Linked DNA regions of Homo sapiens. The protein of the gene in region 1 purifies or fractionates together with the protein of each later gene. This does not show direct contact. Each region holds a gene or a part of one and is shown on either strand. Other genes may lie near its edges. The genes, in order: TFAP4, ATF1, CABIN1 and ANGPTL7.

Evidence for each region.
Region 2: the proteins of TFAP4 (region 1) and ATF1 purify together in Homo sapiens (affinity purification with mass spectrometry; 2 studies listed by BioGRID and IntAct, with this or other methods). This does not show direct contact.
Region 3: the proteins of TFAP4 (region 1) and CABIN1 purify together in Homo sapiens (affinity purification with mass spectrometry; 3 studies listed by BioGRID and IntAct, with this or other methods). This does not show direct contact.
Region 4: the proteins of TFAP4 (region 1) and ANGPTL7 purify together in Homo sapiens (co-immunoprecipitation; 3 studies listed by BioGRID and IntAct, with this or other methods). This does not show direct contact.

The regions. Positions count from the first base shown.
Region 1 is NC_000016.10:4,270,008-4,277,741, forward strand, and holds the start of TFAP4 (transcription factor AP-4), read right to left. Parts: upstream 3,017-7,734; 5' UTR 2,740-3,016; coding exon 2,651-2,739; intron 1-2,650.
Region 2 is NC_000012.12:50,759,316-50,767,112, forward strand, and holds the start of ATF1 (cyclic AMP-dependent transcription factor ATF-1), read left to right. Parts: upstream 1-4,785; 5' UTR 4,786-4,992; intron 4,993-5,011; exon of another isoform or gene 5,012-5,089; intron 5,090-5,154; exon of another isoform or gene 5,155-5,239; intron 5,240-5,263; exon of another isoform or gene 5,264-5,609; coding exon of another isoform or gene 5,610-5,677; intron 5,678-6,735; exon of another isoform or gene 6,736-6,832; intron 6,833-7,373; exon of another isoform or gene 7,374-7,797.
Region 3 is NC_000022.11:24,006,910-24,014,308, reverse strand, and holds the start of CABIN1 (calcineurin-binding protein cabin-1), read right to left. Parts: upstream 3,006-7,399; 5' UTR 2,942-3,005; intron 2,940-2,941; exon of another isoform or gene 2,581-2,939; intron 2,552-2,580; exon of another isoform or gene 2,396-2,551; intron 1-2,395. UniProt on the Homo sapiens protein: May be required for replication-independent chromatin assembly. May serve as a negative regulator of T-cell receptor (TCR) signaling via inhibition of calcineurin. Inhibition of activated calcineurin is dependent on both PKC and calcium signals.
Region 4 is NC_000001.11:11,185,273-11,192,358, reverse strand, and holds the start of ANGPTL7 (angiopoietin-related protein 7 precursor), read right to left. Parts: upstream 3,005-7,086; 5' UTR 2,780-3,004; coding exon 2,404-2,779; intron 90-2,403; coding exon 1-89. UniProt on the Homo sapiens protein: Has a role in the formation and organization of the extracellular matrix.

The DNA.
Region 1 (7,734 bases):
AACCCCATCTCTACTAAAAATAAAAAAATTAGCCAGGCATGCTGACACATGCCTGTAATCCCAGCTACTTGGGAGGCTGAGGCAGGAAAGTCGGTTGAATCTAGGAGGCGGAGGTTGCAGTGAGCCAAGATTGCACTCCATTCTGGGTGACAGAGTGAGACTCCGTCTCAAAAAAAAAAAGACTGAGTGTCATTTTTACAGCTACCAGGCACTTGCCATACCCATAGCTAATTTTCTCACAGGTGCTCTGTTTCCCAGAGACTGAGAACCATTAGGCGACAGGTCCAAAACCTGCAGCTTGTGTGTGCAGCACCGTGCCCTACAATCCCCTCTGGCAGGCCTGGGAGACAGAAAGACAGGGAGATCCCTGCTGGTCACTGAGGGATGGAGCAAAGCCCACCAGCCTGAGATGACCCTGAGAAGCAAATGCATCTGGCCAGAAGGTCCTGCCTAATGAACACATTTGATCCCAGACTGGCTTCCCACCTCACCCTGCAACCCCTACTGAAGGTAAACAAATCCAGGGACCCCCAACTCCATGCCTAATGCACAGCTGACAACTGTCTTGCAATGGACGTTGCCATGTCCAACCCTGGACGAAGGCCCTACACCTTCAAGTCCTTGGCCTACCAAGATCCAGCTACCCTGGGGGACTGCTGGTATGCTCCAAAGGAACGCTTGGGGCAGGGATAAATTGAAGCCAGAATCTCAGGGGGCCCTGAGAGGACTCACCCAAGGCCCAGGCATGGCAGCCAGAGGGCCCCCCAACCCTGCCCAGGATCAGGCCCAGAATGTCTTCTCCAGTAGGCACAGCGGCTCAACTGCACCTCCGCGCTGCCCAGCCCAGCCCTGCAGCAGCAGCAACCCCAGGACAAGGGTTCAAGTTCCAGTTCCACCACCTGCTGTAGTGGTCCCTTCTCCAGTCTCTGTGTCCGCCTCTTTAAGCGGAATCAAAAGACACTTTTGACTCATAGAAAGATTATGACAACTCAGTGAGAAAATTCTAGCAAAGTGAGTCCCCAGAACATAAAAAGAGCTCAAGAATTTTTTTTACTTATTATTACTGGGCCCTCCAGGTGGGCCTCGTGCAAGGGCCAGCCCTCGGGGCATCCCTGCCAGCTGCCAAACCCATCAACTGGCCCAAGTCTAGGTATTGACTGGGAACTTCAGAGTAGCCTTAAGGTGGGGACCCCCGGGGCAGAGGGTTGGGCAGGAGTGTCTACACGTGTGCAGCAACCTTCCCTCCAGGCCGGATTCTGCAGGCGCTAGCGTCCACCAGCCTGTGCCACACCGGCGGGCTCCTCCTCCCTCAATCCCCGCCCAGACTGCCTCGGGCGGCAGAGCACGTGGCTCCAGCCCTGGGGAGCCATTTCGCTCCTGGAGCAGCGCGGCAGGAAAGGGGCCACAGGTCCCAAACTTGCGCACGCCGTAGAACGCCCACCTCCCCCACACCACGCCCAGGGGGTCGTTCAAAATGCAGATGTCCGGGCCCCAGCGATCAGAGTTCCAGGCATGTGCATTTTAAGAAGTGTGCGGGGTGGTTTGGCTGTGTGTGGTCCTTGAGTCCATCACCCTTTGGGTTTAGAGCAACCTAGGACCAAAGCTTGCAAAGTGGCTTCTGGGGAGGCCTGCGGACCTCGGGCCACCCACCCGGCTGGGGGACCCGACGCTTTCGGTTTACGGCAGGGGGGAGGGGCGTTGGATGGGAAAGTTTGCAGAGGAAACCCACGTGCGGCGGGAAGCTGCCCTGCGAGGCTAGGGGCGGCCTCAGGTGTCCCTTCCCCAAATGGCCTGCCCACCTGGCCTGCCTTGCCCATCGTGCCCGCGGGGGCCGAGCTTTGTGCAGGGAAAGCGTGGCCCAGGAGCGCCTACAAATCCCACAATGCTGCACCAGCAGGACACGGAGAACTACAGCTCCCGCGAGGCCGCGCGCAGAGGTCCGCCTACTCCAAGAGGGCTGCAGAGTCACGTCCAGGCCTCGCTAGTAAACAGCGCCCGGGCGCGGGCGGGCGAGCGAGCGGCAGCCAACGTGCCCCGGGCCGCGGCGCCCCTACCGGCCGCGCGGGCCCCTCGGGGTCCGCCCACCCCCAACACCCACACGCGAGCACGCCCCCGACCCCGCTGCAGCCCCGCTCTGCAAACACGCACAGTGCCCGGCTCCCCGCCCCCACCCCGCGCCGGGAGCCGCGGCATGGCTGCATTGTAGCCGCCCTAGCTACACCCCCACGCGCGCCCCGGGCCCCCAGACCCCCTTGGATGGGGACGACCTCAGATCCCGAGGAAGGAAGGAGAGGAAGGAAGCCGCCGCAGGAGGGGGAAAGAGGAAGCGCGGGGGGGAAGGCCACCAGCACCAAGCATGGCCGGGACTGCTGCAGAACCACGTGGGTCTGTTTGCAATTTACAAACGTCGCGACTCGCCCGCCTGCAGCGGACAAAAGTGGCCGGGGCCGCTTGGGGCCCCCATGCTCCAAGGAAGGAGGGTCCCGGGGCGGCGCGGACCCGGCGTGTGGGGCTGCAGCCGTCCCGGCAGCTAAGAAAGGCTAGCGGGGTCGGCGGCGCGGGCCATGCGTGCGCACACGCGCGCCCGCCCGGGCGGGCTGGCCGGGGGCTGCAGTGGTAGGAAGGGGGTGGGGGGAGGAGGAGTACACACCTACAGAGCCCTCCTATCACTTCTTTCTCTGTTTTCCTGAAATGTTGCAAAGAGGGCACCTTCTGAGTGGGCACCATGAAATACTCCATAGCGATCGGCCCCCCTCCTCTGCACGAGCCAGGTCCCGCGATCAGCCGGAGAATGCAAGATGGAAATCCGAATCAAAGGGCAGCGCCGGACGGAGGTGCAGAATCGGCCGGTCCCAGATGCTGGCGGCGGCGGCGGCGGCGAGGGGAGGGAGGCGGGCGGGAGGGGCGGGAGGGAGGTCTCTCCGGCCTGCCTCCCCGGGCGTGTGTATGTGTGTGTGTGTGTGTGTGTGTGTGTGTGTGTGTGTGTGTGTGTGTGTTTGCAGCTGATCAGATGTCTGTTTCAAGGCGGGAAACAGCTGGTGAAAACTCAGCACTCCCCCGGCCTCCTTCCGCGGAGTAAGGAATTGCATGTAAACAAAGGACTATTTGCAGCGCCCCCCGGGCGGCGCGAGGCCGGGGCGAGAGGGGCGCGGGCCCCCGGGGACCGGCTGCAACCGGGGTCTGCAGGCCTCTCGCGGGGCGCAGGGGGCCGGGGGCCGCGGGCGGGCTTGCGGGGCGCGGCGTGAATGGAGCGAGCTGCGGCCGAGCTACATGCGCCACTATGGGTGATGAGGTCCATCAGCTGACAGGTTGGCAAGCGTTGCAAAAAAAAAAAAAAAAAGGCCAGCCACCGCGCAGGGAGCCCAGCCCGTGCAGCCCGGAGTCCAGCAGCGACTGGCCCAGAGCAGGGTCCGCGCGCTCGGCCGGCCCGCAGGGAGGAGGGGGCGCGGCTGGGTCGGGCGTGCAGCGGCAGCAAGGAAGGCGGCCTGGGGTTCGCGCTTGGGGCTTCTGCTTTTTCACCATTGCAGCTGCACGGAGCGGAGCCTCTCCGGTGTGCTCCCTTCGAGCCGAGCCCAGGGCCCCCTGGAAACTTGCGTCACAGCCACCGCTTCCCACATGTAACTCGGGGCTGACTTCGGAGGCCGGCCAGCTTCCTCCCTCCCGCCTTGCTTAGCTGGCCGCACGGCCGGGACTCCGGATCCTGGGAATCTTGGACCCGGCGACGGGACGGCAAAGGGCGCCTCGGATGCTGGGGCCGCCCTAGGAAGCCGGGGGCCCCGGCAGGGAGGGGAGGGTGGAGGCGGGCCTGAACGGCAGCGGCCCCCGGGCGCAGGCTGCCAGCGCTGCGGGGAGGTCTGCTGGTTGCTGCCGGGTCCCCTGCTATTCCCCCAGACCCGCACTGTTCCCTCCGCGGGCTGAAGGCTGCAGCTTCCCATTCATAACAAAGCCCGTGTGGGACTTGCCCCTCCGCCAGGATGCGCTCCCCAAGAGGGGGTGACGACTTGGGGCAGGGACGGGGACCCTGGCGGCGAGCTTCCGTCCTCCGCTCGCACGCCGCACCTTCCGGCCCCAGGCCCTCCCCTGGCTCCTGGAGGGTTGGCTCCTGGCTCAGGAAGCCCACGCCTGCCTTGGAATGTCCTGGATCCTGCCCACCGCCTTCCAGGTTCCGCCTAAATCGCGCCTCCTAATTTGACTTATTCCTACTAGTAACAATAGTTACTGTTATTATTGGGAAATATTGTTATTAGATGTTGCCAGCACCCGGTGGATGCCGAGCAGTTTTGCTTACACGCTCTCCAATCCTTGAAGCAACCTGTTAGGCAGTTTCTCTAAGGAGAGATCCCAGACCACTTGACCAAAAAAAAGTCTCTGGAAGGCTTACTATGTTTCTACTTAAAAAAAAAAAAAAAAAAAAAAAACTTTCGGCTGGGCGCGTTGGCTCACGCCTGTAATCTCAGCACTTTGGGAGGCTGAGGCGGGTGGATCACCTGAGGTCGGGAGTTCGAGACCAGCCTGACCAACATGGAGAAACCCCGTCTCTACTAAAAATGCAAAATTAGCCGGGGGCCTGGTGGCACATGCCTGTAATCTCAGCTACTCGGGAGGCTGAAGCAGGAGAATCGCTTGAACCCGGGAGGTGGAGGTTGCAGTGAGCCAAGATCATGTCATTGCACTCCAGCCTGGGCAACAAGAGTGAAACTCCGTCTCAAAAAAAAAAAAAAAAAAAAACCTTTTTACTGTTTTTCAACAAATAGAGATAGGAGTCTCACTGTGTTGCCCAGCCTGGTCTTGAACTCCTGGGACTCAAGGAATCCTACCTCTACCTCCCAAATTGCTGGGATTACAAGCATGAGCCATGGATGGCCCTGGTGGGAAGCCTATTTTTAACTGCCCTTAGTGAGCAAGCTATTCTTTTTTTTGTTTTGTTTTGTTTTGTTTTTTAAGACGGAGTCTTGCTTTGTCACCCAGGCTAGAGTGCAGTGGCACGATCTCGGCTCACTGCAACCTCCGCCTCCTGGGTTCAAGTGATTCTTCTGCCTCAGCCTCCCAAGTAGCTGTGGTTACAGGCACACACCACCAAGCCCGGCTAATTTTTGTATTTTTAGTACAGATGGGATTTTGCCCTGTTGGCCAGGCTGGTCTCAAACTCCTGACCTCAGGCGATCTGCCCACCCCGGTCCCCCAAAGTGCCAGGATTACAGGCATCAGCCACCTCACCCAGCAGTGAGCAAGCTATTCTGGTGCATTACTGTCTCCTTATCCTCTCATTTTGCACATGGGAAGACAGAAGCTCACAGCTGCAGACAAGAATGCACTCAGGAGTGCTGGCTGCAAAAAGCCCTGGTTCTTTATATCACACTCATCCTCCCACCTGCCACACCTCACCTCTGATCAGGGCCTTATTTTGTACTTGCTTTTGTTATTTTCCAGAGCAAAGCATTCTGTCATACTTAGTTATATGTGGCCTTCAGAGTGTTCTCTGGCTGTCTCCCTGGTTCAATTTTTTTTTTTTTTTTTGAGACGGAGTCTCACACTGTCGCCCAGGCTGGAGTGCAGTGGCGCGATCTCGGCTCACTGGAACCTCTACCTCCCAGGTTTAAGCGATTCTCCTGTTCTCCTGCCTCAGCCTCCCAAGTAGCTGAGATTACAGGCGCCTGCCACCAGGCCTGGCTAATTTTTGTGTATTTTTAGTAGAGACGAGGTTTCACTATGTTGGCCAGGCTGGTCTCGAACTCCTGACCTCGTAATCCACCTGCCTCCGCCTCCCAAAGTGCTGGGATTACAGGCATGAGCTACTGCACCTGGCCTCCTTGGTCCAATTTTGTCTCCCAGAGACGAGGGACTGTGCTTTTACTCTTTTCTCTCTTCACGGGGGATGGTACAGGGCTGGGCACATGTGTGAACTGCAGAGAGTGATCTGCAAAGCTGATATCCCTGGAGACAGCCTTGGCAGAAAGGATGAGAGGGAGACCCTAGGCACAAGTGGGTGGCCCAGGCAGACCCGGGAGCTGGCTGCCCACACTGAACTGGGTAGTAGGCACTCATCCCCTCTCCTAATAAATCAAGGAAGCCCCCGCAAAGCAGCGGCATTTGGAGTCCGGCCAGGGGATGGCAGAGACCTGCTTTTTCATTTGTCTTGGAAGTCATTTCTAGGCCCACACAGAATCTGGTTCCTGGGGCAAGAGTTGACATCGCAAAATGTAAGAGAGTGACAAAAATTTCAACACCCAAGATAAATTATGTTGGGTTTTCTTTGTTGTTATTGTTGTTTTTTTTTGAGACAGAGTCTCGCTCTGTCACCCACGCTGGAGTCCAATGGCGCAATCTCGGCTCACGGCAACCTCCGCCTCCCGGGTTCAAGTGATTCTCGTCCCTCAGCCTCCTGAGTTGCTGGGACTACAGGAGTGCGCCACCATGCCCAGGTATTTTTTGCAATTTTTGTAGAGATAGGATCTCACCATGTTGCCCAGGCTGGTCTTGAACTCCTGACCTCAAGTGATCCACCAGCCTTGGTCTCCCAAAGTGCTGGGATTACAGGCATGAGCCACCGCGCCCAGCCTCAAATTACGTCTTAATTTAACATTTTAAAACATCAAAATTGGCTGGGCACAGTGGCTCATGCCTGTAATCCCAGCACTTCGGGAGGCCCAAGTGAGTGGATTGCTTTAGCTCAGGAGTTCAAGACCAGCCTGGGCAACGTGGTGAGACACCATCTCTATAAAAAATATAAAAGAATTAACTTGTCGTGGTGATGTAGTCCCAGCTGTTCGGGAGGGTGAGGTGGGAGGATTGCTTGAGCCCAGGGAGGTTGAGGCTGCAGTGAGCTGTGATCGTGCCGCTGCACTCCAGCCTGGGTGACACAGCAAGACCCTGTCTCAATAAAATAATACATAAATAAAATAATAAAATAAAATAAAATAAATTACTGCCAAAAATCCATACTAAACACACTCTCCACATTTTAATGACTATCTCAGTATTACTGATTTTTCCCTTTCCCTCAGGCTTCAGTATAGCTCTCCAAGACACTGTTGCTGATCCTTAGCTTTAAATTCAAATAATGGCCAGGCACAGTGTCTCACACTTGTAATCTCAGCACTTTGGAAGACCGAGGCAGGAGGATCCCTTGAGGCCAGGAGTTGGAGACCAGCCTGGACAACATAACCAGATGCTGTCTTTACAAAAAAATAAAAAAAAATTAGACTGGCACGGTGGTGCATGCCTAAAGTCCCAGCTACTTGGGAGGCTGAGGCAGGAGGGTTGATTGAGCCCAGGAGTTCAAGACTACAGTGAGCTATGATCACGCCATGGCCCTTCAGACTGGGCAACAGTGTAAGACCCTGTCTTAATAATACATTTTAACTGGGAGTCCAAAGTAGGTAGATCACAAGGTCAGGAGATTGAGACCACCCTGGCTAACATGATGAAACCCCATCTCTACTAAAAATACAAAAAAAATTAGCCAGGCATGGTGGTGGGCACCTGTAGTCACAGCTACTTGGGAGGCTAAGGCAGGGGAATCGCTTGAACCCGGGAGGTGGAGGTTGCAGTGAGCCGAGATCGCACCACTGCACTCCAGCCTTGGTGACAGAGCGAGACTCCATCCATAAAATAATAATAATAATAATAATAATAATAAAATTTTAAAAATTCAAAGACTGGGCCAGGCGTGGTGGTTCATGCCTGTAATCCCAGCACTTTGGGAGGCAGAGGCAGACAGATCACTTGAGATCA
Region 2 (7,797 bases), on another chromosome or scaffold:
AAAAAAAAAAAAAGAAAAAGAAAAAAAAAATTAGCTGGGCGTGGTGCTGCACATCTATAGTCCCAGGTACCTGGGAGGCTAAGGTGGGAGGATGGCTTGAGCCTAGGAGGTCAAGGCTGCAGTAAGCTGAGATCGTGCACCACTGCACTCCAGCCTGGGCGACACAGCAAGACCGTCTAAAAAAAAATCCAACATTTATTTAGTGCTTACTATATACTAGGCACAGCTCTAACTTTACGTGTATCAAAGTAATTCAGTCTACAAAACCCTATGGGATAGGCAGTGTTATTAAATCCATTTCATTATAACCTCTTTTTTTAAAATTTTTTTTTAATGGGATGGAGTCTCCTTCTGTTGCCCAAGCTGGAGTGCCATGGAGTGATCTCAGCTCACTGCAACCTCTGCCTCCTGAGTTCAAGTGATTCTCCTGCCTCAACCTCCCGAGTAGCTGGGATTACAGGTGCATGCCACCACACCTGGTTAATTTTTTTTCTTTTTTTTTTGAGACAGAGTCTTGCACCATCACCCAGGCTGGAATGCAGTGGCACAATCTCAGCTCACTGCAACCTCTGCCTCCCAGGTTCAAGCGATTCTCCTGCCTCAGCCTCCTGAGTAGCTGGGATTACAGGTGCACACTACCACGCCTGGCTAATTTTTGTATTTTCAGTAGAGACGGAGTTTCACCATGTTGTCCAGGCTAGTCTCAAACTCCTGACCTCAGGTATCCACCCGCCTCGGCCTCCCAAGGTGCTGGGATTACAGGTGTGAGCCAATGCCTGGCCACATCTCTCTTTTCTAACAACAAAAAAGTGTGCCAGAAGAGCCAAAGTGGTGCTACCACAGGCTTGCCCAGTTTATTTTAAAAAAAACAATTACTTTTGGCCAGACACGGTGGCTCACACCTGTAATCCCAGCACTTTGGGAGGCTGAGGCGGGCGGATCACCTTAGGTCAGGAGTTCGAGACCAGCCTAACATGGTGAAACCCCATCTCTACTAAAAATACAAAAATTAGCCAGACGTAGTGGTAGGCGCCTGTAATCCCAGCTACTCAGGAGGCTGAGGCAGGAGAATCCCTTGAACCCAGGAGGCAGAGGTTGCAGTGAGCCAAGATACCCCCACTGCACTCCAGCCTGGGCGACAGAGCAAGACTCTGTCTCAAAAAAAAAAAAAAAATTACTTTCGGCTCTAAGTTTCTTTTTCTTTTTCTTTTTTTTTTTTTGAGGTGGAGTCTTGCTCTGTCACCCAGTCTAGAGTGCAGTGGCACGATCTCGACTTACTGCAACCTTCACCTCCTGGGTTCAAGGGATTCTCCTGCCGCAGCCTCCCAAGTAGCTGGGACCACAGGTGTGCTCCACCACGCTCAGCTAATTTTTTGTATTTTTGGTAGAGGCAGGGTTTTGCCATACTGGTCTTGAATTCCTGACCTCAAGTGATCCACCCACCTTGGCCTCCCAAAGTGCTGGGATTACGGAGGACGTGAGCCACCCTGCCCGGCCATGGCTCTAAGTTTCTTTGTTTCACTTTCCTTGCTTCTAATATTAAAGATCTGTCCATCTGATTTATGAAACTTACTATTCAGATAAACTGCATGCATCAGAACCAAGACCTCTTTTTTTTTTTCATCTAGTTATCACAGTTCAGAAGACTGGTAGGCACAGTTTATGATACTTCAATGAGAAAGAGACAAGAAAAGCAGAAGTATTTTTGAGGGGCAGTGTTGAACAAGCATAACTTTTTTTCTTCTTTTCCTCTGTCAACTGAGTCGTGGTTTTTTGTTTTTGTTTTTTTTTTTTGAGATGGAGTCTCACTGTTGCCCAGCCTGGAGTGCAGTGGCACGATCTCGGCTCACCACAAATTCCGCCTCCTGGGTTCAAGCGATTCTCCTGTCTCAGCCTCCCGAGTAGCTGGGACTGTAGGCTCACGCCATCACGTCTGGCTAACTTTTGTATTTTCAGTAGAGACGGAGTTTCGTCATATTTGCCAGGCTGGTCTCGAACTCCTGACCTCAGGTGATCCACCCACCGCGCCCTCCAAAGTGCTGGGATTACATGCGTAAGCCACCGTGCCCGGCCTGAGTTGTTTTTTAAACAATTTTAAAAAAAATTATTTTAGAGGCTAGGTGCCGTGGCTCATGCTCGTAATCCCAGCACTTTGTGAGGCTGAGCAGGCGGATCATTTGAGGTCAGCAGTTCGAGACCAAGACTGGCTAACATGGTGAAACCCCGTCCCTACTTAAAAAACTACAAAAATTAGCCAGCTGTGATGGCACACACCTGTAATCTCTCAGCTACTTGGAGGCTGAGGCAGGAGAATCACTGAAATCCGGGAGGTGGAGGTTGCAACGAGCCAAGATTGCACCAGTGCACTCCAGCCTGGGCGACAGAGGCAGACTCCATCTCAAAAAAAAAAAAAAAATTAGAGACAGTGTCTCATCTGTCATGTAGGCTTGAGTGCAGTGGCATGATCACAGCTCACTGTATCCTCAAACTCCCGAGCTCAAATGATCCTCCTGCCTCAGCCTCCCCAGTAGATGGGATTACAGGCGCATGCCACCAGGACTGGTCGAGCGTAACATTTGATTTAGACCTAAGGCACTAAGGAAGAGGAGCTAAAGAAGTAGTCAAGGCACATTTTGAAGGTTTCATTTTTCAATAAAATTTCCAGGTTTTTATTTTTTTTCTTTGGAGACAGTCTCCCTCTGTGGCTCAGGCTGGAGTGCAGTGGCGTGATCTTGGCTCACTGCAACATCTGCCTCCCAGGTTCAAGCGATTCTCATGCTTCAGCCTCCTGAGAGGCTGGGATTACAGGTGTGTGCCACCACACCTGGCTAATTTTTGTATTTTTAGTAGAGACGGGGTTTCACCATGTTGGCCAGGCTGGTCTCGAACTCCTGACCTCAGGTGATCTGCCCTCCCCCACCTCCCAAAGTGCTGGAATTACAGTCATGAACCACGACGCCTAGCCCCTCCCCCGCTTTTTACTGATCAACTTTTGTTAAGCATTCTGTGGTCCACGGAAGAAAAAACCAAACACCAAAGAACAATAAACTTGTACAACCAGCCTTCCAGCCATCAATATTCTGGATTCCAGAATGATTGAGGCTGGACTTTGTTAATCATCGAAGGCTGGTATCTGAGAAACTCTTCCTCTCCCTTACCTTTATAGGCCACTTTTCTTTCAGTAATGCTGAAACACTGACTTAATAACAGTTGTCCCCTGGTCTAGCATTTAATAGGTAATCCACAATTTTTGCTGAATGTCAATAGCTAAACGTTAGTGACCTCTTAAGACTGTCTGGCAGAGTAAATCTTCGGCTTTATATCACATTCTCCGACCCAAAGGGCCAAAAATAGGCAAAGCTCTCTCCACTAAATCGGTTTCCTAAATTGGGGATCTCAAACTAGTAAAATTTCAGAAAACTTTCGGAACTTTTGTCAAGAGCATACTAAAAAAGTTTATCTTTTGTCGTTTACTATCATTAAAGCCATAAAACAGCATTTTACAAGGAAATTTTAAAAATTAAGAATAAGGCATAACTCCCTTCCAGAGAGGTAGACCCAAAAATATTCTGAAGTTTTTGTAATGCATTAAAATGACGGCATAACATTTTATTAACACTCTGTTACGTTTCTTTTTTCTTTTTTTTTGAGACAGTTTTGCTCTTGTTGCCCAGGCTGGAGTGCAACGGTGCGATCTCGGCTCACCGCAACCTCCGCCTCCCGGGTTCAAGCGATTCTCCTGCCTCAGCCTCCCAAGTAGCTTGGATTACAGGCATTCGCCACCACACCCGGCTACTTTTGTATTTTTTAGTAGAGACGGGGTTTCTCCATGTTGGTCAGGCTGGTTTCGAACTCCCGATCTCAGGTGATCCGCCCTCCTGGGCCTCCCAAAGTGCTGGGATTACAGGCATGAGCCACCGCGCCCGGCCACATCGTTATGTCTCATTGTAAATCCGTTTCTGTAGAAAATCCTTCCACATGGGTTAAAGGACACAACTCATTGTTACTTTATGGGATTAAGAAAAATCTGAGTAAGGCCGGGCACGGTGGCTCACGCCTGTAATCCCAGAACTTTGAGAGGCCGAGGCGGAGGATCACTTGAGCCCAGGAGTTCAAGACCAGCCTGAGCAACATAGAGTCCTCATCTCTTCAAGCCGAGCGTGGTAGCGCGCGCCTGTGGTCCCAGCTGCCCCATAGGCTGAGGTTGGAGAATCGCTTGAATCCCGGGGTTGGAGGCTGCAGTGAGTCGAGATCGAACCACTGCACTACAGCCTGGGCCACAGACCCCCGTCTCAATCTCGGAAAAAAAAAAGAGACTCCATCTAAAAAAAAAAAAAAAAAAAAAAAGCTGAGGAAGTCAAAGCCTTCACTCTTCATTTCTCCTTCCAAGAGGACAGGGCCGGCGTCGGTCAAGGTCAATTGGCAGGTGAGTTGACAGCGCCGCCACTAATCGATGAAAACGCCCCCCGCGAGCACCCAGCTGCTCATGGCCTCCGGAAGCGGACGTAGGGCGGGTGGGGTACAGCTCCTAAGGAGAAACGGAACCGCAGGCACCGTCCCTCTCCCGCTGCAGCCTGAGGAACGCGTTCCGAGGAACCCCTAGCCACAAGTCAGGACCGCGTACAAGATGGCGGCGCGTCACGTGGGCAGCGCGGTGACGCAGGACGGCGGCCCGCGCGGAGGCAGCGCCATAGCCTACCCCAAACGCACACTAGTGCTCAGTTTTGCCCCCCTCCCCTCCCCCGCCCCCGCCCCCGCCCCCAGGCTTGTGTAGATCATGCCGCCAGTAGCGGCCCTGACTGCCGAGGAAACGGTAGCTTAGGACAGTTGGCTGTTAAGTGACACTGATTCTCCCCGCCCCGCCTGACCCCCGAGAAGGAGGCTTGTCCCCCGCTGCGTGAGGGGGTGGGGAAGTGGGTAGTGAATTCGGATCTACCTGGGAGGGGGGAGTGGAAGTTCCCGCCCCGGAGAGCGGCGAGGCGGCAGCCACAGGTAAGTGGGGGGCGGGGAGGGACGTGCCCCGTGGCCCGGGCGGGGAAGGACGCGGGAACGTGGCGCCGGCGGGGACGCAGCGCGGGTCGCGCGCCTGGTGGGGGTCGCGCGCGGTGGTGGCGGTGGGGGAGGGGCGCAGCGGCAGGGGGAGGGGCCGCCCGCGCTTCCGGCCTCCGCGCCTCGGTGCAGAGCTGCGCTGCGCCCTTCCAGTCGTGCGTCTCCTCCTTTCCCTCGCCCCCAAATAAAAGTAAAGCCCGAAACCGCCCGCCGCGGGGTGGCTTTCGCCTCAGAAGCCGCCCTTTGCAGTCGCAGGCGCTAGCTCTCCGTGGGAGGTCTCGAGGTTGGGCCCGGAGCCGGGCGGAGGGCGGCGCGGATATGGCCTCGGCGCGGTGTCCGCCGAGCGGAGCCCGGGTCTGGTTAACCCCGCGACAGGGTCCTCGAAGCGCGTCGGCGCTGGCGACCCTGAGGGAAGAGGCGCGCCCCTTACCCTCCTGGAGCTTGCAGTCTAGCGGGCAACCGACGCACGGGCATTGCGCACGCCCCAGACAGTCCTGGAGAGATGCGCCTGGCAGCGGAGACAGAGTGGGGACAGTAGGCGGCTTTACCCCTGGCTAGGAATGACACAAGGGCGTCTGTACCCTTTGGGATGGGCGACCCAGCCGAGGGTGACTTTCTCTTTGATCTTGTATGTCAAAAAACGAAGCCTGGCATTTCTCACTTTGATCGACGCCGTGCAGCTGGCGGCTGAATCGCTTTGAAATGATTGCAATGTGAAATAATGTCTGGTTGTGGCGCTAGTGTTTTGAAGAGATTGGGCAACTGGTAGTCTTTGAGAACCTTTAGGGTTCAGAAGCTCGGCGTGGATCTGGCAGGCATCTTTGTCAAACTGGCCTCACCTGTGATGAGTTCGTAGGCATTTATGTCTCAGAATGCATTTTAACCTGAGGTTTTTGTTAACAGAAATGCGTTCTTCTAAAATGCTCTTTTTTCTTGGAGTTTATCATATGCAGTTATCTCCGTGTCTTAATTAGAATCAATACTGTTGCCCTAAAGTCGAATGTATTAGCTCTTTAATACTTGCCGTTATCTTTTAGGGTTAGGTTTGGTCTGTGAGCTATCTGTCCATTCCTACCCGATCACCAGCAGGTGGCAGTCCCTTCTGACTTTAAATATAGGGTGTGCTATCTTTGCCAGTTTTTGTTTTGTTTTGTTTGTTTGTTTGTTTGTTTTTAAATAGAGATGGTGTCAGAGGCGTGTGAACTAGAACAACTCCATCTTAAACAGGAGCTGGGTAAAATGAGGCTGAAACCTACTGGGCTGCATTCCCAGACAGTTAAGGCATTCTAAGTCACAGGATGAGACAAGTCAGCACAAAATACAGGTCATGAAGACCTTGCTGATAAAACAGGTTGCAGTAAAGAAGCCGGCCAAAACTGAAATGGCCACAAGAGTGACCCCTGGTCATCCTCACTGCTACACTCCCATCAGCGCCATTTACAAATCCCATGGCAATGTCAGGAAGTTACCCTATATGGTCTAAAAAGGGGAGGCGTGATTAATCCACCCCTTGTTTAGCCTATCATTGAGAAATAACAGTAAAAAGGGGTAACCAGCAGCCCTTGGGGCTGCTCTGTCTATGGAGTAGCCGTTCTTTTTATTCCTTTACTTTCTTCATAATGTTACTTTTACATCGCACTGTGGACTTGCCCTGAATTATTTCTTGCGCGAGATCCAAGAACCCTCAGTTGGGGCCTGGATCAGGACGCCTGTCCTGTAACATATTTCTGGCGACCACAAAGGGACTATAGTGCAGAAACCCTGACCCAACGGCTACCTTTGGGTAAGTGTTGGGGTCCTGTAACGTATTTGTGGTGGCCACAGAAGCGACTATACTGCGGAAACCCAGTATTTATGTTTAGGAGTCTCTCCTAAGACAGTGGGTTCGAGGCCCCTCTTAATAAAAGGCAAGGACGCTTAAGCTTGACTGACCTTGGGTTGGAGGCCCTTCTAAGATATAGGGAGTTAGAGTCCCTCTCAGGTAACTCCCTCTCAGCTAAGAACAGGTTTGGCACTATGGGATATTAACTGCTGTTCTCTTTGGATTAATCTGCCTTGCGCTCTTTGCTGATGGCTGTGGGTGACAGAGTTAGGCATGAACAGGATCGTGGGACATGGGGAGCTTTTTCCTCTCTAAAAGGGGAGTCTTTTTTTTTTTTAATTTAAGTTTTAGGGTACATGTGCACATTTTGCAGGTTAGTTACATATGTATACATGTGCCATGCTGGTGCACTTCACCCACTAACTCGTCATCTAGCATTAGGTATATCTCCCAATGCTATCCCTCCCCCCTCCCCCCATAAAAGGGGAATCTTGAGAGCTGATGGGACTGCTGGAAAAGGTCCCTTTGCTGCGTACAAGCGGCTGCCTGAGGTTTTCATTGTCGGCTGCAATGAGTGGGTCTTTTCTCTGGCCTCCCTAAGCTCTTCAGCTTCCCCACCCTGCCACAGGCAATACTTTTCTTATCTACTTTGCGTTTCTTATTTTTTCTATTACTCAGGGCAACCATCTTACCTAGAGGCCACATGTTGAAACTCCAAGTCGGAGGTTGAATTAAAGATGACAGGCCCATCTGGGGGCAAATTTAAGCCTTGCTAGTTTGATATTGGGTGCTAAGCGGAGTGGCTAATGTCTTTGTTTTATCACACGTATTTTGCTCTGGCCAGAATGGAAAAAACATAATTTTCCTTTATGATACGGCTTGGCCCCCAGGGCAATGATGCTGCAAGCTTGAACACTAGGACCACT
Region 3 (7,399 bases), on another chromosome or scaffold:
AATATAATACATATCCATGGCCTACACTGACACATAAATAATCAAATAAATAAATAAAAGAGAGAGAGGGTAGTTCTCCTTTCAGTAGAACTTGACTTAATAATGTAGAAGGAAAGAGAGAAATAATTACCTTTAGGCAAACACCACAAAGATCTGCAGATGGATGCTAAAGTCAGGGAGCAAATTTGTGGAGAACGAGAATTTGTGTCCTCTCAATGTATCTCTCCCAAGAGACTTATTAATTAGAAAGGGATAGTAATTTTATGGTGTAGAAACCTGGTAGACACCAAGTAAACCAATAGATCAAGGTAAATATCACCAGTAATAAGACATTCCAATATCTTGGACTCCATGTGATGCACTGAGAAAGACACAAAGATAATGTGTCTTTGTGTTCTGGCCAACAATGCATAATCTCACCCCAATCATTAGAAAACACTGGACAAACCTTTAAATTGAGAGACGTTAGACAAAATAACTGATCACTACTCTTTAAAAGCATCAAAGCCAAGGAAAACAAGAAAAGACTAAGGAAGTGTTATGGACCAAGGAGAAATAACTAAATGCAACATGGGATCTTGGATAGGGTCCTGGAATGAAAACACAACCTTAATTTAAAAAATGGTAACATTCATATCACATCTGTAATGTAGTTAATAATACTGTACCAACACTAGATTTCTGTTCTTGATAATTGTATGATTATGTAAGATGTTAACATTAGGGAAAGCAGGGTGAAGGACATAACAGAGCGTTTTGTATTGTTGCAATTTTTCTCTAAATCTAAAATTAGTTTAAAAAGCTTAAAAAGAGGCCGGGCATGGTGGCTCACGCCTATAATCCCAGCACTTTTGGAGGCCGAGGCGGGCGGATCATGAGGTCAGGAGATCAAGACCATCCTGGCTAACACGGTGAAACTCCGTCTCTACTAAAAAATACAAAAAACTAGCAGGGTATGGTGAGAGGCGCCTGTAGTCCCAGCTACTAGGGAGGCTGAGGCAGGAGAATGGCGTGAACCCAGGCGGCGGAGCTTGCAGTGAGGCGAGATCGCACCACTGCACTCCAGCCTGGGCCACAGGCGAGACTCCATCTCAAAAAAAAAAAAAAAAAAGCTTAAAAAGAAATAACCATTTTGATTATATATTTATCATCTGTAAGCAATGTGAGGATGGTAACCATTTATGTATTGTTCACCATAAATCCAAGAAACTCACTAAAAGGAGCTTTTAAAAAAAAAAAAGCTATTGAGGCCGGGCGCGGTGTCTGACGCCTGTAATCCCAACACTTTCAGAGGCCGAGGCGGGTGGATCACCTGAGGTCAGGAGTTTGAGAGCAGCCTGACCAATACGGTGAAACCCCGTCTCTACTAAAAATACAAAAATTAGCCAAGCATGGTGGCGGGTGTCTGTAGTCCCAGCTACTCGGGAGGCCGAGACAGGAGAACTGCTTGAACCCGGGAGGCGGAGATTGCAGTGAGCCGAGATCATGCCACTGCACTCCAGCCTGGGCGACAGACCAAGGCTCCGTCACACACACACACACAAAAGCTATTGAATAATCATGAAAAAGAAAAATATCTATTCATTTCTGACTCCCAGCCCAGCAGCTGCATTTCCTCAGATAGCAGCACATTCACCAGGCTTATTAGTCTAAGCTAATAAGTTTCCAAACCCCTTAGAATATAGTTTCCATGGCCTCAGAACACGATAAAGAGTAGCACACCTTCAGACCTCAGCACCCTGATCCAGAGTGATAACTGGGGATGTTTCCTGGCCTGGAAGGTGGGAAGCCTATGTCTTAAGCTCAGTGGTGGCAGTGCCCTGGCTGTGTGACTGACTTGACATAGATGTCAGTCTCTCAGTCTGTTTCCCCTCATGTATGAGGCTTTGTACTAGATGAGGGTTCTGCAAGCTAACCAGCCCACCCTTTTTGTACAGCCCACGAGCAAAGAATGGTTTTTACATTTTTTCATATTTGGGAAAAAAAATCATGACACGTGAAAATTATATTAACAATATATAAAATTAAAACTTCGGTCCCTATAATTAAAATTTTATTGCGACGCAGCTAGTCTGTTATGTATTGTCTTTGGCTGTATCCACACTACATCGCTACAGTTAAGTAGACAGAGTATGGACCCCCCAAGCCTAAACTACTATTATGAATACTATTATACTCATTATACTTACAATATAACAATGTAAACACTGATATATTTACAACAAAAGTTTGCCGACCGCTGAACGAGACTGTTCTAAGCATATTCTATTTCTAACCACAATAATCACATAGAAAGAATCTTAGCCACATGGAATCCGACGGTCCCACACTTATAACCTGTAATAACCCAGGTCCTGAAGAGTTAAGTGACTCCCAAAGCCACTTGTGCAGATACCTTGGGAATGCCAGGTGAGTTCCATCTGGCCAGGGCCCGCCTCTTGCGGGGAGGCAGTGAAGCAGAACGGTCAAAATTTTCAGTCTGGAGTCGCGCTCACCCACTGGGTGACTTGGAGCAAATCATTTCACCTACCCGCGGCCTCAGTTTCCACCCCTGTAAATGGCACCAATAACAACACTCACCTCGCAGGGCTGCTGTGAAGGTGAAGCGAAAGGTCGCGAGTAAAGGGTTAGCGCGCTGGGCTTTGCACCCAGCAGACGCCAAATCAATGGTGGCTCCTGCGGTTACTGGGAACCTCCCCGGAGGCCGGAACCCATTCTAGGCACCTCAGGGCGGCGGCGAGAGCCATGAAGAGGCTCGCGAGGCAGCCAGGAAGCCCGGCCTCGGTTTCCCTGACTGGGGCTCTAAAGCTGCCCGCGAAACCCCCAGCTTCCTCACGTAACCCAGCCTCGCGCCTGCAGCCCCTCCGGCCTGTGCCCCGGGCTCTGCTGAGCCTCACCCCCACCCCGGCACCGCCTTCAAACCAGCCTTCCAGGAACTCACCAGGCGTCTCCACAGCAACGGCCAGTCTGTCCCGACCACCGCGCCGTCCGGCTGCGCGCCTGACAACAAGGCGTGCTCCCATTGGCTCCGGTGCCGGTTGTGCCAGCCAATCAGCGGGGGCGCACGCGCCGCTCGCTCTCCGCGGGCTGCTTAGCTGGGGCCCTGCAGACGGCTACCCTTGGGCGGCGCGCGCGCGCGTGCGCGCGTGTGTGCGCGTGTGTGCGCGCGTGCGCGTGTGCGTGTGCGTGTGTGTGTGTGTGTGTGTGTGTGTGTGTGTGTGTGTGTGTGTGTTGCGGGAGTGGAGCTTGTTGTTTCCGGATCCCCGTCGTCAGTCCTAGCGTGCTGGAGGCTTAGAGCACCAGCTCGTAGTCGGACTCTCTTCTCCACAGCTTGCACCCTGAGCAGTCACTAAATGATGGGCTGTGTGTTATTACCTGGGACATGTGCTCTGAAAACAGTGGAAACTTGGGGAACACTTAGAGCGGGGTGTCCAATCTTTTGGTTTCCCTGGGCCACGTTGGAAGAATTGTTTTGGGCCACACATAAAATACACTAACACTAAGGATAGCTGATAAGTTAATAAATAAATAAATAATAAAAATAAAAATCACCAAAAAATCTCAAAATGTTGTAAGAAAGTTTATGAATTTGTGTTGAGCCGCATTCAAAGCCAAGCAGACCAGCGCGTTGGAGAAACTTGACTTAGAGGGAACCAGGGAGGAGGAGCATCCTCATTCATTATATTACCTGTGCCTCTCTTTCCAAAAAGGATGTGAAGCCCAAAAGGAACAGATACAATAGGATATTGAAACAAAAGGAAAAAAAGGAACAAAACCTAGTAAATGAACAAGAAGAGGGGTCATGGGTGGTGTCAGAATTCCAGAGATGAAAAAAGGCGACAGAGTTGAAGGGGTTCTGTCAAGGGTCTTGGGCTGAAAGATGGTACTCTCTTGGGAGCTAGAATAACAATAAAGCATTGTAGGGAAGAACTTTACACTGTGGTTGAATTCATAGCTGCTTGAGTCTTGCACAGATGATTCAAATAGGAGTGAATGTTGGGGGCTTTTTAACCTCAAAGACAGTAACAGCATGGTGAAAAACTCAGTTCAGTACAATAAAGCTATACTGATAAGCTAGAAGTTCTGAAAATTGTTGAGTCACCAACCTTGACTTTGAGTATTGGGGTAAACAGTATTTGGGGGGTAAACAGAAGCATAAACAGATGGTTTCAAAGCTGCATGGATAACCTTCAGCCTCGGATACAGCTTCCACTCAAGCCTTATCATGAAAGATGCGCTGGAGAGAAACAGTTGAAAATAGGTGGGAAGGGTGGTCCAAGCAGCAAGAAAGTTGTGTGGGGAAGGTCCGGAGGTGAGAAACATGCAGATCATGCTGGAGTGTCATGCAGCACAGTGTTACCGTGAGGCAAAGCTCAGGGCCACAGTGGGGAGAGAGCACTCTGGAGAGTTAGGAAGAGGCCAGTCCAAACAAGCAAGCAGAAAACATATTGTTGCAGTCTTGCCCGTGCACCACAATGTACCAGTCTCTCATTGTGGGGTATCACCCAGAATTCTTTGTCTCACGACCAAGAAAATTAGGGAGTGTGGACACAAAGGGTAAGGTTGAAGCAAAAGTTTAATAAGCAAATGAAGAAAGCTCATTGCAGCTGGCGGGGGGCCCAAGCAGGTTGCCCATTATGAGGCTGGGTCAGGGGGTTTTATGGACTGGGAAAGGAAGGAATGTACTGACTGGTCTTGGAGAAAGCACTACTCAGCTTGGCCCCTGGACCTTGAGGGACCAATCAGGAGCTGAAGTGATAGCCTGGCCCAGGACCAATCAGAGGCTCACATTCTAAAGCACGTCCAAGAAAGGAAAGTGCCCACTGGAACCCACTGTAGCCCACCGTGTACATGTCCACAAAAGGAGAAGAGACTATTTCCTGGAAGCCCACTGGTTATACAAAGGACAAAGGCATTTCTATGCTGGGTCTTGTTCCCTTATCAAAGTAGCTGTGGGCATGCCTTAGGCACAAAGATCAAAGGTGTTTCTGTGTTGGGCATTGTTCCTTTATCTGAGTGAGCCAGAGGTTTGTGCAAGTTTCCTTATCTGTGCCTGAAGCCTGATTTTTCAGGCTGTTCCTCTGTTTAAAGGAGTTTTACCAAGGACCCACCTTAATTACCTAACTTTTCTCTCTCAATATCACTCTCACTACACTGAGGATGGCAGATTTAACATGGGGAATCTATATCAAAGACTGTGGCCTTATGGTCTTGGTGAGAGTTAGGCCTGAATCCCATCCATGGTGACCGCAACGATTCATTCATATCCAATGCAAGCATTCCCTGAGGCACTCTGGGAAGCAGGACACCATGAAACACACTGGCAGAGGAATGAGTGCAAAATACTTGGGTCAGGGGTCCAGGGGAAGGAACTCCAAGGTCTAGCTATCAATGAAAGTCCTTAGCAGTGGTTAGGTACAAACACACCAGGCACAGGCATATTCCATTAGAAATTGATTTTATTAACTACATAGACTGCACAGACTGAAAATCTGAATTTGGTGTTTCACTGGTACGCTAAAGATAAGGATCATCAAAGGTTTATGCAGGGAAACAGTGACCACCACGGTGTCCAAGGGTCATTAGAGGAAAATTCTGCATGGAACATGTGGAAAGCTACAGAAATGGAGACTCCCTATAGGCTCCCCCACACCACCCCTACATACTTTGACATTCAACAGACTGATAGGATATTTAGATAAGAGGGTGGGGACCTCATTCATTCAGTTTCAATGCAGTTTCGGCGCTGACATTGCATTTCCAGGTTTGGCATTCTGGGACATGGGTTTTACAAGGTGCCTAGCTACAGAGAATTATCAGCAAGAGTTAACAGAGAAGATGAAGTTCTCTGCCCAGGAATGCCCAGAGAAAGTCCCTGAAGACAAATCTGCCCTGTGCTCTGGCCCACTACAGCAGACTATGGAGAGGAAACAGCTCAGAACTAGTGGAGAAGGGCTGAGCAACTCCTGGAGGTCCAGAATTCTGGGGAGGGCAGGTGAGAGGAGCAGCAATGGGGCTTGAGCTCTTCCTGGACCTGACACACTATCCACTTTTGCAAGACAGAATGACATCCCTTTTGAGCTGTGGATGGTGGAGTTGGCTTGGGGTGAGCCAGGTGGCTGGGCTGGGCCCCATGGAGTGGGTGCCAAGGACCAGGCCCTACACTGAGCCTTCTCTCCTTTCTGCCCACCAAGGGAGCACCTGAAGCCTGAGTTCCTGAAGGTGAACCCCCTGGGGAAGGTGCCTGCCCTCAGAGATGGCGACTTCCTACTAGCAAAGAGGTAATGGTGACCTGGTGCCCACCCAGGGTCAGAGCCAGGATCTGCCTGGGTTCTGGGGCTCAGAGTTGTAGGGGGAGGCAGAGGCGAGAGGGGAGATCTTTCCTTGGCTTGGAGATCTTTCCAAATCACTGAGGCCCCTTCCTCATTTCAGCCTGTGTAGCTCCGATGCAGAGGCTGGACCCAGGGGCACCTTTGGGCTAAAGCTGGAGGCTGGAACCTGGCTAGAGTCTGAGCCAGCTGGAGCTGCCCAGGTGGGGAAAGGACGTAGGTCACCCGGATAAACCTGGACAACCTGAAGCCAGCGGGCAAGGCCCAGGCTTGAGGCTGGCTCCTCCCCAAATGTCCCCAGCTCATCCTTTCAGAGTCCTAGGAGCTGGGCAGACCCAGGGGAGACTCCACATTCAATCCCAGCTCACCACTTCCTCAATCCATGCCCTTGGGGAAATCACAGAACTTTGTGTGCCAGGTTTCTCCTCTGTAAAACGGAGTGGGAGGAATAATGTATCCACCTCCCAGGGCTTACCTGAGGATAGAAAATGGGCACCTAGTGTTCTGGGGCACTAGGAAGGGAACTTGGAGACCTTTTGGGCAGGGCCCACACGGCAGGCACTCTGAGTGGGGACCCTGATGCCAGGGAGTGGGGCCTGGGCACAGAGGGCAGGATGGTATGGTAACTGGGAGGGGAGGTGGAAACATGGGCCCAGGGAGGATCAGAGTTGGAAATGGAGAAACAGAGTGGTTTGGTCGTGGGGAGATACTGCCTGGAGGGAGTTGCAGTATAGGGGAGGTCCTCCCCTGAAGGTGAAGGTGGGGAGAAAACCTGGTCAAATCACCCTGAGTATGAGCAATGAAGCCACCTGGCCCTGACAGGCTGGAGAAAAGATCTCTGACACCCCCTGCCCACAGCATGGTCATCGTTTTATACCTGAGTCGAAAGTACCAGATACGGGGACACTGGTACCCACCTGAGCTGCAAGCCCGCACCTGCGTGGATGAGTACTTGGCGTGGAAGCATGTCACCATCCAGCTGCCTGCCACCAATGTCTACCTGTGCAAGGTGAGCTTCCTAGGCCCTGTCATGCAGGCTGGGGCAGGGGCCTGGACCCCCAGAGATGGAA
Region 4 (7,086 bases), on another chromosome or scaffold:
GCTGCCCAGGAAGTCATCAGGAGGAAGCTTATACACTCCAGAGATGCGGTAGTTCTTCTGGTAGAGGGAAGAGCAGTCGTAGATGGCATCTACAAGAGAACAAACCACAGGGTGAGCATTTAGACCCAGTGGCTCCATCTGAGTTGAGTGTTTAGAGACTGAGCCTTTATTTCTACCCTGGGATTCTCAGTGGTGTTAATTACCCATCAGTGTCTGCATTTGGGAGAGGTGGATATGGGGAGATCCAGAGGGGGTGTATTTTGGCTTTACTAGCGGTGGAGCAGAGGGGTAGGGAAGCCCTTCACCTGGATAGCATTAGTGGGACGTTCCAACAGGTGGTTTCAGGTTAACTCTGAAATAAATTATTCTGCTATAGCTGGGCCATGAATTCTAGAAATGTTACAGTGTATGAGGGCCACGTAACAGATACTCCTGTCAGATAGATTCAGACTTCTTAGACAGCCGCCACTATAACAAATCAGTCGTGAATATCTCATAGAGTCTGGTTTTGTTGATGTTTCCTGGTTGGTTGTTTTTGTTGTTGTTCAGAGATGGTGGCTACTGCCACCTGAGACCATAATTAAGGGAGATAGATTTTATTATCACATATTTTCCCCTTCCATCCAGCTAGCACCTCAAAACACTCAGAAGAACCTTTGAGGCCTTCCTCCCAGAAGTTTTGTTAAAACAATGAAATGAGAGCATCAGACTGGCCAGTTTTTTTACTCTAGGGCCATGGAGCTGCTACTTTATGCAGGATTTAAGCTCTGTATTCTAAATATCAAAGAGCATAGTGGAAGAGACAGCCTTTTCTGATAGGATTCAGAGACTGCGGCCCTTACTATCCAAGAGAAGCTTCCTGCCTGCTATGTCTCGGGGTGCTTTTCTTGGTGACCACTGCACTGGGACCTTAGAGAGGAGCACCAAGATGGCAGATGGGAGTTGTCTGAGGCACATAGGTTCTCTTGCAGAGCACCTTGGGAAAGGGAGGTAGAGTACGTGTGCCTTCGCCATCACTATTCTTCATTTCGTCTTAGTGGTGAAAGCACCAACTTACTGCTTCCTCTAAGGGACTACCTACTTATAGAATATAAGGGTAACTGAGCACTTGGTCATAGAGAAGAAAAATAAGGAATGATGTCCTGGGCAAGAAGAGCAAGAGACCTGGTGGGAGAGCTGCACTTGACCCCAAGAACCTCCTTGCAGGATGGTGAGAAAGCCTCCTGTTTGGATGAGCAGGAAGTGGCACGGTCAGATTCCTCTGTCTGGCCTGGTCTTCCGCATGTCTGGTTTCATCTCACAGACCAAATCAGGACTCACTTGTCTGGAAAATGGCCTGAGAATACCTTTCTAATCCCAAACTGAGGGCCCGGAAGTCCATGCTTAGAAAGTGATTGATACATGTTGGTTCAGGTAACAGAATTTTCAAGCTTGGTTTCATGTTAAAACTTTTTCTTAATTTGAGCTGAGGTTAACCATTGACTTAGTCAGTAGAAGCTGATCATGTCTTTGTTCTTCATGTAGTTTATAATGGGACCAATGGTTTTTATATCAGCAAGAAATGACATGTCTATAGGATATGCTCCTTACAACTAATATTTTCCTGATAATTTCAGAAAACCAAATTTTTATCTCTAAACCGTAAATTCATGTTGGCCCACCTGAGCTGAGCTAACCAGAAATAAAAGTTATTTTGCAAAAGAAAGATTAAATTTATCTTATTTTTGGCCTATTAAGTCTATATTTCAGCATTGCATTTAAAAAATCCTGTATTCGGAGAAATTCATTTAAGACCATGGAAAAAAATAGACGTATCACAATTGAGGAACCTTAAGGAGCCGCATCCTTCCTGAACACAAAGGGACTCTTCACATGGTTATGTGTCTCTACACTTAACTCTGAGCCAATGAGAAGAGTTACGTTTACAGAGAGAGGACACAAAATTCCATTAATGCTCATTCCTGGTAAATCTTAGGAACACCAGAGAACTGTTTCTGGCAAAACTTTGCTTCCAGAGGAACAGCTGTTACAGTTTGGTGCTTCCTTGGAATTTCTTGAGATATAGCCTGTCAGCTCTTGGTGAGGAAGTAGCAGAGCTACACCAATCAGGAAGACTTGAACCCTGCTTCTAAGACTTGCTGGGTGACTTTGGGCAAACCATGTAGTATCTCAGCACTCCAAGATGGTAGGCTGAAACACTGTGTGGATAAAAGAGACCCGTGAAGGTGTTAGGTAAACTTACATAGCATTAGAAGTCAAAGGAAATACTGCATAAGCCTTTACTAAAGGGAAAGTGTACCCACAAAAGAGGCCCCAGTAGTGGTTCTGATGACCAGGATATGTAGAAGCAGTGCTGTAGATGGGGAGGCACTCCACGCTCCCTCAGGGGACTGGTCTCCTTACCTGCGGAGGTCTGAGTGACCGTCTGTGCTGCCTGCAGCTGCATGATGTCAATTTGGTTGTTCATCTCGGAGTACTTGCTCTCAGCATCTGTGAGCCGCGACTCCATGCGCTTGCTGTTGCTCTCCAGCTCCATCACCTGCATGACCACGCTGACCCAGTCCCTCTCCTGCTTCTTGTTCAGTTCACTCAGCAGGCTGCTAAGGTTGGCAACTTGGGCCTTGAGCTCCTTCACCTCCTCACAGCAGTTGGCCGCTTTGAGCTGTGGCTGTGCTGGTGTCTTGTGCTTAGAGAGCTTCTGCAGCCACGCTGGGTGGCTGACAAAGGCCACGATGAAAATGCAGAGCCAGGTCACAGCTGAGAGAGGCTTTTTCAGCATCTTTTGTGGGTTTGGGTGAGGAAGGCTCTTCCTTCAGGGGAGTCTGGAGATGCCCAGCTGAGGTCTGCAAAGCTGCAGCAGGCTGACTGAACCTTACGCTTTCACTCTGAGGGCCTCGCCACTTTGTTGTTTTCTCTCTTTCCTTGCTCTTTGCTAGCCTTTCTCAAAGCTTGAGTCTCTGACAGGGGAGCTGAATGGGTAGCCTATAGCTTTCCTTCCAAGCCCGAATGCTCCACAAGTCAGCATCTTAAATATTGTTTGCTGCCTGTACCTCCACCCCTACCATGGCTGCACCAGGCTTTAGCCCCTCCCAGCTCATCTGGGAGGGTCAGGTGCCTGTTGGGTGAAGTCAGCGGCAACTTAGGCCAGAGGAGGGGAGGAGGGAGATGGGGCGAGTCTTTCTTTCCTTGCCTGTACAGTCTCTGGGCTAAGACAAGAGGACTGTGAATTTGTGTGTTTCCAGTTTCGCCTATTAGATTATGCCCCTGCCAGCCACTGGCTCAACTCTATCAGCAAGCAGGACAGGGTCAGAAGAATTTCCAAATTCCGTTCAAAAGGTTATATAACCATGGGGTGAGCGTAAGGTAGGCGAAAGAGACGCTACTCACCCAGGGAGGCCTGTTAATGTAATCCATGCTGTTTATATGAGGATCTGGTATATTTTGACATCCTGCTGAATATGCTTTTATCTAGGCTGATTATTCCCATCTCTGATCATTATTTAGTATTTTATAAAATCCTTACTCAACCTGGATCTAACACTATCTCACATTTGAAATCTTCCAACTTAGAAAAGTTCTAGAAATAGAAGAATAGAGTAAATCTCTTAGGAAGCCAAAAAAAGACTTTGTAGCCACAGGGTTTGGACAGTTGTCTTTTTACATGCTTTCTCCTTCAACAAAGAGAGGGCCAGTATTAGCATATAACACTTGATATTTTGCAAGGAGGTGTCAGAAGATTACAACAGAGATGAAAACTCAGCAGTGCCAAGCATGTCTGGGATTGGTCACCCATGCTTCTGTCAGTTTCTAGGCAGGACAGAGAACAGGCCCATCCTTAGCCCGTGGTTCAAAACTTGGAAAATATATTAAAATATAGAGAAAAGAATCCCTGTCACCTAATAAATCCATATCTAGAGTCTCATTTCCCTCTTTCTTTGCTGGTATGGTTTGCAATTTGAAATTATTCCTCCTCTATTTGTATATGACTTTGTATCTAAAAAACATGAATATTGTAATTTTTCATGTACTATATATGAAGGACAATGCTCTTTTGAAAAGAAATGTGAAAAACATGGAGTTTCAGCAAACATCCTTAAAATAAGCTTTTCACTAAGAATCTATACAAAGGTTCCTCTGTCCTTAAAACAGTAACTCTGTCTTTGGAACATACGATTGCTGTTTCCATGTTATGGAGCCACTCAGGCAGTTACTTGTACTGTTGTAGTCAGCGTGGGTCCTTCCCACATAAGCCTGATGCCTGACAGCTCTCCTCCCATGCCATAATCCCCCAGAGCTCTTTTCCAGTCAGGGCTTCTAGCTCCTCAGAAAGTAATTTCTGTTCAGGCAGCTGGAGTTACTGAACAATTTTTTTTTTTCTCAGAATCAAAAAGCAGTGGAGGATCAGGTGGATCAGAGTTTGTTTTCTCACATACCCAGCCTCCTTTGCCTGCTAAAGGGTGAGGATGTTACTGATACCCTTATAGCAACTTGGCATTCTAATCAAAAGATTCTGTTGAGAATTGGCACTGTCTGCCAGTCTGCTCTCTTTTTGCAAATGTCTAGCCCAGCTGGGCACCACAGCCTTAGCTCCATAGCATTCATTTTAGTAACGAGACTCTGGCCCCAAATATTGGCATCCTACAAGGTCTGCTAAAAATAGGGATTTTCAAGTGGATCTCCTGGCCATCAAATGACACTGAGCTTAAACCACATGCCACAGAAGTGCTATGTACCATACAGTCATGTATAGCAGGGGTCCCTAATCCCCAGGCTGCAGACCTGTACTTGTCCATGGCCTGTTAGGAATAGGGCCATACAGCAGGAGGTGAGTGGCAGGTGAGTGAGCATTACCGCCTGAGCTCTGCCTCCTGTCAGATCGGTGGCAGCATTAGATCCTCACAGGAGTGTGAACCCTGTTGTGAACTGCACATGTGAGGGATCTAGGTTGCGTGCTCCTTGTGAGAATCTAAGTACTGCCTGAAGATCTGAGGTGGAACAGTTTTACCTCAAAACCATCCCCCATCTCCCCACCCCCACCCTGGTCCATAGAAAAATTGTCTTCCACGAAACCAGTCCCTAGTGCCAAAAAGATTGGGGACCACTGATGTATAGCATCCCACGTGACCCTGCTGCCTTGGAACTCTCATGTAACAGTGCAGCAGAGAAAGCACAAAAGAACAGTGGAACTTTGTGGAGTTCTAGCCAGCTTTTGTTTATTCTTCCCAGTAGCTCACCCAAACAGGAAAGTGTTATGAATTGATTCTTATATGTGGGCAGAAAATAAATTAATCATTCATATTTGTACCCCATGTAACAGTCCCTTTTAGGAAAGGTAGGAGGAGGTTCGTAAGTTTGTATTGGAAGCATCTAGCCTTTAGCATGAGTGTCTGGTCTTTGACATTTATTTTCTGGAAACTTATTTCTAACATAAGGCAATACTTGAAGACAGAAGACAGAAGCTCTTGAATTGCATAAGCTACCCAAATGTCAATACTCACCCCCCCTCCAGTTTTGAGGAAAAATAGCTAATTAAGGATATTTCTCATGCCAGAAGATTATCTATTTTCTAAAACATCCACAACCTTATGATGTCCTAGATTCTGAATATCTAAATGAAGGAAAAAGAAGTCCTTGTTTTGAGCACAGCTAAGCCAGTAGAGAAAACCATGAAGGATGTGGAGGACTAAAATGGTATTGCCTTCTCTGAAAGAGGCTTTTAAATCCTTCTTCTGCCTTTCAGTGAGCAGAGTGACCTTAAAAATGGGAATTAACTGACAAAATCTGGAAAACCTAGGTTGGATACTGTTTAGATTTTCCTTTTCTCCATTTTGCTGGTGTTGAAAGAGGGCTAGCTTGGTGCTCCTGGAAAAGGTGTTTATGAAAATTAAGCTTTTGTTCTTAATGAAAAAAGTCAGTGAGGTTGTACTCAACCTGGAGGTTCTCAAAAGACTTCACAGTGTTTGGGCCGCACTGCCTTGGGCTGGCACCAAGGTAGTCTGAGGGTCACAGGGCAGGGGAGCACCTAGGGGTGGTCTCTCCTTCTATCCAGAGAGGAGCATCAGATCCCATTTGCTTGAAAATGCCCCGTTGGAGAGACTGCTGCCCACTCTCAGCTTGTGGAATGAATACATCTCAGAAGAAGCTGCCTTGCTGTTAGTTTTAATTGTGTATCTCAAAGGAATATTTCACTTCTTCTGAAGTCTTTGAAAAAACCACAGCCTGCCATACTCTATACAGCCGTTGAATATCTGCCTTTTTTTTTTTTTTTTTTTTTTTGAGACGGAGTCTTGCTCTGTCGTCCAGGCTGGAGTGCAGTGGCACGATCTTGGCTCACTGGAAGCTCTGCCTCCCGGGTTCACGCCAATTCTCCTGCCTCAGCCTCCCAAGTAGCTGGGACTACAGGCACCTGCCACCATGCCCAGCTAATTTTTTGTATTTTTTAGTACAGGCAGGGTTTCACCATGTTAGCCAGGATGGTCTCGATCTCCTGATCTGTTGATCCACCCGCCTCGGCCTCCCAAAGTGCTGGGATTACAGGTGTGAGTCATCATGCCCGGCCACATATCTGCCTTTCTAGCACTCCATCCCATTCCTGTCTCAACTGAAAGTCCAAGTCCATCACAGAAGATATTTCCATCTTTTCCCTGAGCTTTCTAATTTGCCACTTCTATCAAAGAATGTGTCCTGAACCTATTAGAAGTCTTTTCTCTCAGGCCTTCTCTTAGAGTCCTGTTTTGTTTTGTTCTGTTTTGTTTTGTGACAGGGTTTCACTCTGTTCAGGCTAGAGTGCAATGGGGCAACCATGGCTCATTGCAGCCTCAACCTCCCAGTCTCAAGTGATCCATCCACCTCAGCCTCCCGAGTAGCTAGGACTGCAGGTATGCACCACCACACCCAACTATCTTTTTTTCTTTCTTTCTTTCTTTCTTTTCTTTTTTTTTTTTTGTAGTGATGGGGGTCTCACTGTGTTGCCAGGGCTGGTCTCGAACTCCTGGGCTCAAGTGATCCTCCAGCCTCAGCCTCTCAAAGTGCTAGGATTACAGGCATGAGCCACCACACCTGGCCAGAGTCAGTTTTAAATTATGG